Linked DNA regions of Homo sapiens. The protein of the gene in region 2 purifies or fractionates together with the protein of the main gene of each other region. This does not show direct contact. Each region holds a gene or a part of one and is shown on either strand. Other genes may lie near its edges.

The links. Proteins that work in one complex are often made in the same cells at the same time.
Region 1: the proteins of PROSER2 (region 2) and STK26 purify together in Homo sapiens (affinity purification with mass spectrometry; 2 studies listed by BioGRID and IntAct, with this or other methods). This does not show direct contact.

What each region holds. Positions count from the first base shown.
Region 1 is NC_000023.11:132,060,272-132,064,801, reverse strand, and holds part of STK26 (serine/threonine-protein kinase 26), read right to left. Parts: intron 1,370-4,530; coding exon 1,313-1,369; intron 1-1,312. UniProt on the Homo sapiens protein: Serine/threonine-protein kinase that acts as a mediator of cell growth. Modulates apoptosis. In association with STK24 negatively regulates Golgi reorientation in polarized cell migration upon RHO activation.
Region 2 is NC_000010.11:11,861,356-11,864,855, reverse strand, and holds part of PROSER2 (proline and serine-rich protein 2), read right to left. Parts: exon of another isoform or gene 3,449-3,500; intron 2,040-3,448; exon of another isoform or gene 1,814-2,039; intron 1-1,813.

The sequences.
Region 1 (4,530 bases), on a different chromosome or scaffold from region 2:
TCAAAACACTTTCTTAGAAACAGCATACTCTATAATTTCTAAGGCAGAAACACGCAAATAAAAAAAATATAATATTAAAGATGGAAGGGAACTTAGAAATAACTTAGTGCAACTTCTTTGTTTTATAGAACACCTACGTCCAGGAAGTTTGTGTCTGGTTCACAGGCACAGAGCCAGACCTATAACCTCAAACACCCCAGGCCAGCCCAGTGGTCATTCTACTACACTAAGTTGCCTCTCATAAGTCATACTGAATTTTAAAACATAGTATCATATTAATAAAGATTTTTAAGGAAGGGAAAGAAACTCAACATTGATAGGATCACACTGAATTGGGGAACAACCAGTGTTTCTCAAAGGCATTCTGTGTGTAAATGCATCTTCATTGGGTTGAATTTTCCTGCACACTGCAGGATTTTAGCATTCTGATCCATGACCACAAAAATGGCAGGAGCACTTCTAAGTCATTGTGACAACCCAAATGCCATCACATTTCCAAATAACCTATAGAGGGGCAGAGAGAACTCTGTGAAGAACTGGATCTGTAGGCCAACCTTGTTTAGAACCCTAGTACCACTATCTTAGTCAATTCAGGTGCTATAGCAGAATACCACAGACTGGGTGGCTTAAACAATATTTCTCACAGTTCTGGAGACTGGGAAAGAAGTCCAAGATCAAGGGGCTGGCAGATTCGAGTCTGGTAAAGGCACTCTTCCTGGTTTCCAGAAGGCCTTCTTCTCACTGCACCCTCTCGTGGTGGAAAGAAAGTCAGAGAGCTCTCTGGGGCCTCTTTTGTAAGGGTGCGAATCTCATTCATGAGAACTCACCTTCATGACTTAATTAGGTCCCAAGGTCCCCACCGCCTAATACCATCACATTGGGGGTTAGGATTTCCACATATGAATTTTGGGGGGACACAAACATTCAGTTCATAAAAAACACTTTTAGTGACAGTTATCTCAATTACATATTTTTTAAAAATCTAAGAAAACTCAGTTTTTTCAGGGATAAGCTTGCAAAAGTCAAACTTTGACAGCAATGGATACACACATCCCCTTCTAATTTGGGAGACTTTATTTTATTAAGCTATTTGCATTTCTTATATAGTCTTAGAATGCCAGCAACATGTTCAAACGTACAATACATCTGTACCTACATAAGGTAGAGGTCATGAAAAAAGAATTTAATTTGAACATATTAACTAAAGCAACCACTTAGCGTGCTCAAAAGCCATTAATCTTCAATTTAAAAAATTAAGGTATGTGCATATGCACACATTTGCATCTGTGTGTAACTATTTTAAAATACTTACAAGATCCAGTGCTGAACCACCGCCCAGGTATTCCATTATTATCCATAATTTAGACCCCTGTAAAGCCATGAAACAATTTAATAATTACAAACCTGAGCCAAAATAACATACTAGCAAAAATGTTAAATCTCACATACTAAAGCACAGATTCTATTTGCATGTTCTCATTTATTTGTGGGAGCTAAAAATTAAAACAATTGAACCCTTGGAGATAGAGAATAGAAGGATGGTTACCAGATGCTGGGAAGGATAGTAGGGAGGGGGAGTTGGTGATGGTTAATGGGTACAAAAAGTAGTTAGAGAAAATGAGTAAGATCTAGTATTTGATAGCACAACAGGGTGACTATAGTCAATAATAATTTAATTATACTTTTAAAAATAAGTAGAAAAGTATTACCGGACTGTTTGTAACACAGAGAGTAAATGTACCCTGATGTGATCATTATACATTATATGCCTTTATTAAAATAGCTCATGTACCCCCATAAATATTTACACCTTCTTTGTAGCCACAAAAATTAAAAATTAAAAAAATAAAGAACAGATTCTAAAATGTAGGTTTAAAAATGGTTGCTTGGGAACCCCGAATATATTTTTTCCATAGAACATTCCAAATTAAAATTCTGAGCTTAGACTACCCGCATACCTTTTTGCCTATGATATAGCTAAACAAATAAAAGTACTGTTTGTTATTGTTGAACTATTAGTAATTTTTATAAAAAACAAAGCTTTAAATAATTATCTTGAATGATATTGGAAAGAAAAGATAGTTACATTAAAGAATGAGGAGGTAAATGAGGGCTTGTAGAAATTTTGGGTTTGAGTTTGAGGACAATGGATATTTTGCCTTATTTCAGTTGTTGGCTTTCATTTGTTTTGATGTACTTCAAACTTTTATCAGCTACGGTTAATGGGCATTTTTGGCACACACGGAACCTAGAAAGAATATTGTTCATTTTACCTCTGATGTAAATGGATAAGAAAAAGGGAGAGTGTAGCTTTAAAAATCTGTGCTTTCTCCAGGTGGAATTAACTTCCCTGTGAGCTGAACAAGAGGAAATGGGGCTCCTGGGAGGAATATATGTATACAAATTCTAAAACAGGTGTACACACACACATACCATTCAGTACCATCAGTTAAACACTGGAATAAACCATTAAACCCTTTTTATTTTAGCTATAGCTTAAATACAAGGGACACCTCTCTCTCCATACCATTTCATGAGTGGTATTCTCTGAATTTTTGTGGGACCAAAGAGCTGACTGGAAGTAGAATGGTTGGCTTTACTATACTGGCAGCAGCCAAGTAGTGACTGGACTGTGTTCCAAAAGTTGGTTTTTAAGTAAGATGTTCAGAATTTTAAAAGCAAGCATTTTCCCATAAAAATAATGTCTAAGTTCCTGGGGTAGTCCTCCCAAAAGACAATTTCACACAAATGTATTCATTCGTAGTATAGCATAAAAAGTACCAGAGAAACTCACTACTATTTATATCTTAACAATATTTCAAGTAGGAAAATATATTCAGCATGGTGCCTCAACTTGGGATGCCAGAAACACATTTCTCACCTTTACAACCCCAGCTGCGGGGTGAAGATTCTCAAGCTACTGCCAGTAGCCCTCAAACTCAAAAATCCCTGGGAGGTATTCAGGAGTCCAATTTAAAATTTCCAGGCATCTCCATGAGGATGTGACTTTATCAAGGCAGAGAATGGAACCCAGTGACATGATGATGAGTGCTTAGGGGATGGGAGAGGGTTGAAGAATCAGAGTGGAACTGACATTGTAGTGTGGGGAATGGGATGTGGCCTAGGGTTAGCGATCATGAAGGGAGGGCTCAGTTAATTAAGACAAAATGATTCTCCTTTCCATATGCTGACACTATGTAGAATTTGTAAGAGAAAGGGAGGAACAATATTCCCCTACCACTTCCTCCACTAATCTTGACATCCACTCTGTCCTGACATAGATGGCCAGCAGGCACTGTGAGCAGAAAGCTGAGAGTCTTGGTTAGCAGTGAAGTCTACATTAGGAAATAGAGGAAATAAATTCCCACAATACTGGTGAGGGAAGAGGAGTTCCAGGAAAGGTTCATATAACTTGTATTTGTGTATAGAACCTAGGCACTCGCAACCTGAGAATTGTGACTCTGATGTACCTTTATACTTTTTTCAAGAGAAGAAAAAAGTGGTTCTTACAATGGTGGATAGGTTAAAAATTGTTTCTTCTGCCACAAGTTTGTTTCTAACAAGTACTATACTCTATCATATGAATTCAGAGAGCTTCCCATTCACCTGACATTTAAAAGAAAAAGATCTTATAAAACATGCCTGCCTATTTTGCAGTTCTGCATGAATGAAAGCACCTGTTTTCCAAGTTAAAAACAATGTGTGCCTTTTTGTTTGTACTAATTCAAAACAGAAACTTGCCAACTGTCTGTCAGTAAAACGTGTTCATAGAAAGCTTGAAATGTGACTTTACAAAGTAGTATATACCATTAAGCATTAAAATTACAACTACTCAATTTCTAGATCTGAAAATAAGGAATCCTTATTTGTTCTGGAAATCAGTGGTGGTGAGGGCTGCACAACACGCCTGTAATCCTGGTATTTTGGGAGGCCGAGGTGGGAGGATCGCTTGAGTCCAGGAGTCTGAGAGCAGTCTAGGCAACATAGGGAGTCCTCATCTCTACAAAAAGTGCAAAAAAGTAGCCAGGTGTGGTGGCATATGCCTGTAGTCCCAGCTACTCGGGAGGCTGAGGTGGGAGGATCAATTGAACCTGGGAGGTGGAGGCTGCAGTGGGCCAAGACTGCGCCACTGTACTCCAGCTCGGGAGACAGAGTGAGACCCTGTCACAAAAAAAAAGCAAAACAAAAAAACAAAACAAAAAAAAAACCACCCAAAAAACAAACAAACAAAAAAAACACAAAATCAATGTGAATGTAGCCAATGCCAGAGAGCTGTACACTTAAAATGGCAAATTTAGTGTTAAGTATATTTTGCCTGATTAAAAAAAACATACAGCACATAAGACTTTATAAAACTGGAAGTGACAGTAGAGATCATCTTGCCAAGAATATGGCTAGAAAATTTACCACTTCTGAGTCATTTTCCTCCAGCTTGGAATGCTGTGTCCCTACCCCACTTGCACCTTCCAACCCCTATCAAAATCATTCTCAAGACTTAGTTCAAATGCTACCTCCCTAGTTTGAGGGTTA
Region 2 (3,500 bases):
GTACTGTGGGAGGCCGAGGTGGGTGGATCACTCGAGCTCCAGAGTTCGAGCCCAGGCTGGCCAACATGGTAAAATCCTGTCTCTACTAAAGATACAAAAATTAGCCGGGCATGGTGGTGTGCACCTGTAATCCCTGCTACTTAGGAGGCCGAGGCAGGAGAATCACTTGAACCTGGGAGGCAGAGGTTGCAGTGAGCCAAGACTGCACCACTGCACTCCAGCCTGGGTGACAGAGCAAGACTCTGTCTCAAAAAAAAAAAAAAGAAAAAAAAAATTCAGAAATCAGAATTTGATAACTGCCTAAGTTACGTAAGAGAATAGTATCCTTGTTTTTAAAATGTACTTCAGTATTGAGGGGAGCATTATGTAGCAACTACATTCAAATGGTTCAGAAAAAATAAAGTGTGCGTGTGTTGTGTATATAGAGAGAGCGCATGTTAAAATGTGGAAAAAATTTAAAAATTGGTGAATCTAATTAAAGCGTAGGTGGGAGTTCTCTGTACTATTCTTATAACTTCATTAAGTTTGAAATAACTTCCAAACAATTTAAACAAACAAAAGATCAGGAATCAGAAAACAGCAACAGACTTCTCAGCAGCAACACCAGAAGCCGGGAGACAATGGGGGCTCAAAACCCGGATAAATTGTGAACTAGGATCCTATACATAATCCGATTATTAATTAGAACTACGGAAGAATAAAGGTGTTTTTAAGTCATGCAAGGTCTTCAATCTGATCTCCCATGTCAGCCTGTCTGAGGAAGCCTCTGCAGGGTAGTCAGGAAGGGCAGCTGTTCCTCTAAACACGGAGTAAACCCAGACAGAAGACACGGAGCCAGGTAACAGAAGCGTCCACATGAGAAAGCTGCAGGGAATCCCAGAATAACGAGGGCTCCCCAGGAAGCCACCTGTGCGCTCAGCAAGTAGTCTAGTTCACAACAAGCCCAAGGGTGGCAAAGGAAACCATGCAAGCAAAACCGAAACCATGAGCAACCACAGAAAAACTAATGTGAGAGAAAGCATTTATCTATCATCTGTGCACAGCAACATACACACCGACACCATAACAGAGTTGTCTCAGATTGAAATTGTGCATACTTAATACAGACACATGAAAAAAACAAAGGATATATAGCAATATGTCAATAGTGGAGGTAAATAACAAATAGGTAGAGTTAAGAGCTGTTGCCTCCCATTGAGTAGGAAATGGAGGTGGTACATGCGGACTGATGCTTTTATAAACCTTATAGACTATTTGACTCTATAATGCTATGAGTGTGGACTCTGCTTCTGCTGTACTTTTTTTTTTTTTTGTGGGGGGGATGGTTTCACTCCCGTTGCCAGGCTGTTGAGTGCAGTGGCGCGATCCTGACTCGCTGTAACCTCTGCCCCCAGGGCTCAAGTGGTTCTCCTGCCTCAGCCTCCAGAGATGCTGGGACTACAGGTGCACGTCTGTGCCCTGCTAATGTATTTTTTTTGTCTTATCAGAAGTGATTGAGAGCTGATCCATGTGGTGTAGTCTGATGCTTTCCACACTGTGATCTGAGAGGTATTCAAATGCCCACCTACCCAAAGCATCTAACTCCCAGGCCCATACAGAGCCTGTGGTCTACACAATTTCAGAGACTATAGTTGAAAGCATAGTACACTGTTGTTTTGGGGATGAAAACACAAGAACACATGCAAATTTCTCAAGCTAGCCTGGTCTTATTAGCTTAATCCTGAAAGAAGGATGTCTCAGGAAAAGGAGAGATACCTAGGCACGGGTTAGGTAGGCAGGCAGAACATTGCTAGGGAAGATAAGCAATGCGTACCTGTTGGATATAAACCTATGCACAATCGCCGGGTCTGAAGATGTGTGTCTGCTTGGGTGGGTGGACACAGCTTTCCGAAGTGGTTGTACTGACTGACACTTGCTTTCGGCAGGGCTGGTTGCTCTAGCGCCCTGAAGGAGAGGAATGCAGTCATATTTCACTGTGATTTTCAGTGTCATTTCCACGAAGACTAATGATGTTGAGCTTTTTTTTCTCCATAATACAGGTGAGTACTCCTCATCGGAAATGTTTGGGATAAGAAGTGTTCTGGATTTTTTCACATTTTGAAATATTTGCATATACATAATGAAATATTGATGTTTTGTATATGCCTTTTGTTGATTTTTTGGAGACCGTGTCTCACTCTGTTGCCCAGTCTACAGTGCAGTGGTACAATCACAGCTCATTGCAGCCTAGGTCTCCCCAGCTCAAGTGATCCTCCCACCTCAGCCTCCCCAGTGGCTGGAACTACAGGCAAACACTACCATACCCAGCTAATTTTTATATATTTTTTGTAGAGACAAAGTCTTGCTACATGGCCCAGGCTGATCTTGAACTCCTGGGCTCAGGCAGTCCTCTGGCCTCAGCTTCCCAAAGTGGTGTTATTGTAGGCATGAGCCACTGTGCCCATTCTATAGTAAGTCTTGATATCTGGCAGAGTCCTCCAGTTTTGTTGGAGTTCTTAAAGTCTTCCTTAAGTCTGTTTAGCTTTCTTAGTCCTTTTTTATTTCCACATAAATTTTAGTATCAGTTTGTCAATTTGCATATTCACATAAACACACGCATGCCCCTGTGGTGACTTTAAGCGGGATTTGCATGAAAGTTTCTCAAATTGCAGAGAACTGATGTCTCTGCGATCTTTTCTTGACCCATGAATATGGCTCATGGCTTCATTTATTTAGATGTGTGGTTCTCAAAGTGTGGTGTCTGGACCAGAAGCAGCATCTGTGAACTTGTCAGAAACATTCCTGGGTCCGATCCCAGACCTGCCGCATTAGAAACTCTCAGGCGCTGGGCCTGTCAGTCTGTGTTGGACGCAGCCTCCAGGGAGTCTGATGCGCTGACAGTTTAGATGCACAGATCTGGCTCTTTAATTTCTCTCAATGTTTCTCATAGTTTCCAGTGTAGACATCTTGCACGTTTTCTGCCCTATGTCTTCCTAGGTATTTGCTATGGCTCCGCCTACCCTTCACAGTTAACTTTCCACCATTCTCTCCTTTATATTCCTCGGGAGGCATGGCCAACTCTTTGGTAAAGGGCCAGGTAGTGAATATTCTGGGCTGTGCAGGCTTTAGGGTAGCAGCTTCTCAACTCTACCAAGGTAAGGAATGAGCCTCACTTTTGTTACACTGAACTGTATTTACAAAAGCACGGAGTGGGGGCAGCTACGGGCCACAGGCTATGGTTTGTCGCTTCTTGCTCCCTGCTCAAGTCCATCACTGGCTCTTCCTATGTCGGCTTCTAAGGCAGCGACGCCCATCCGTGCACGGCTGCATCTCACCTACTTTCACGGCCGGATTTCAAACCTCAGCCCACCCCCACAGCATCCCCTGAATCACAGCCACACACACGCACCTGCTAAGCACACAATCCAGTACCACAGTATAAATCATGCTCCTGCTGTCTAGAGCTTACCACCCAATGAGGGCTTCAGATAAGATCAGCAACTGCCCTAGAGTGTGGAACT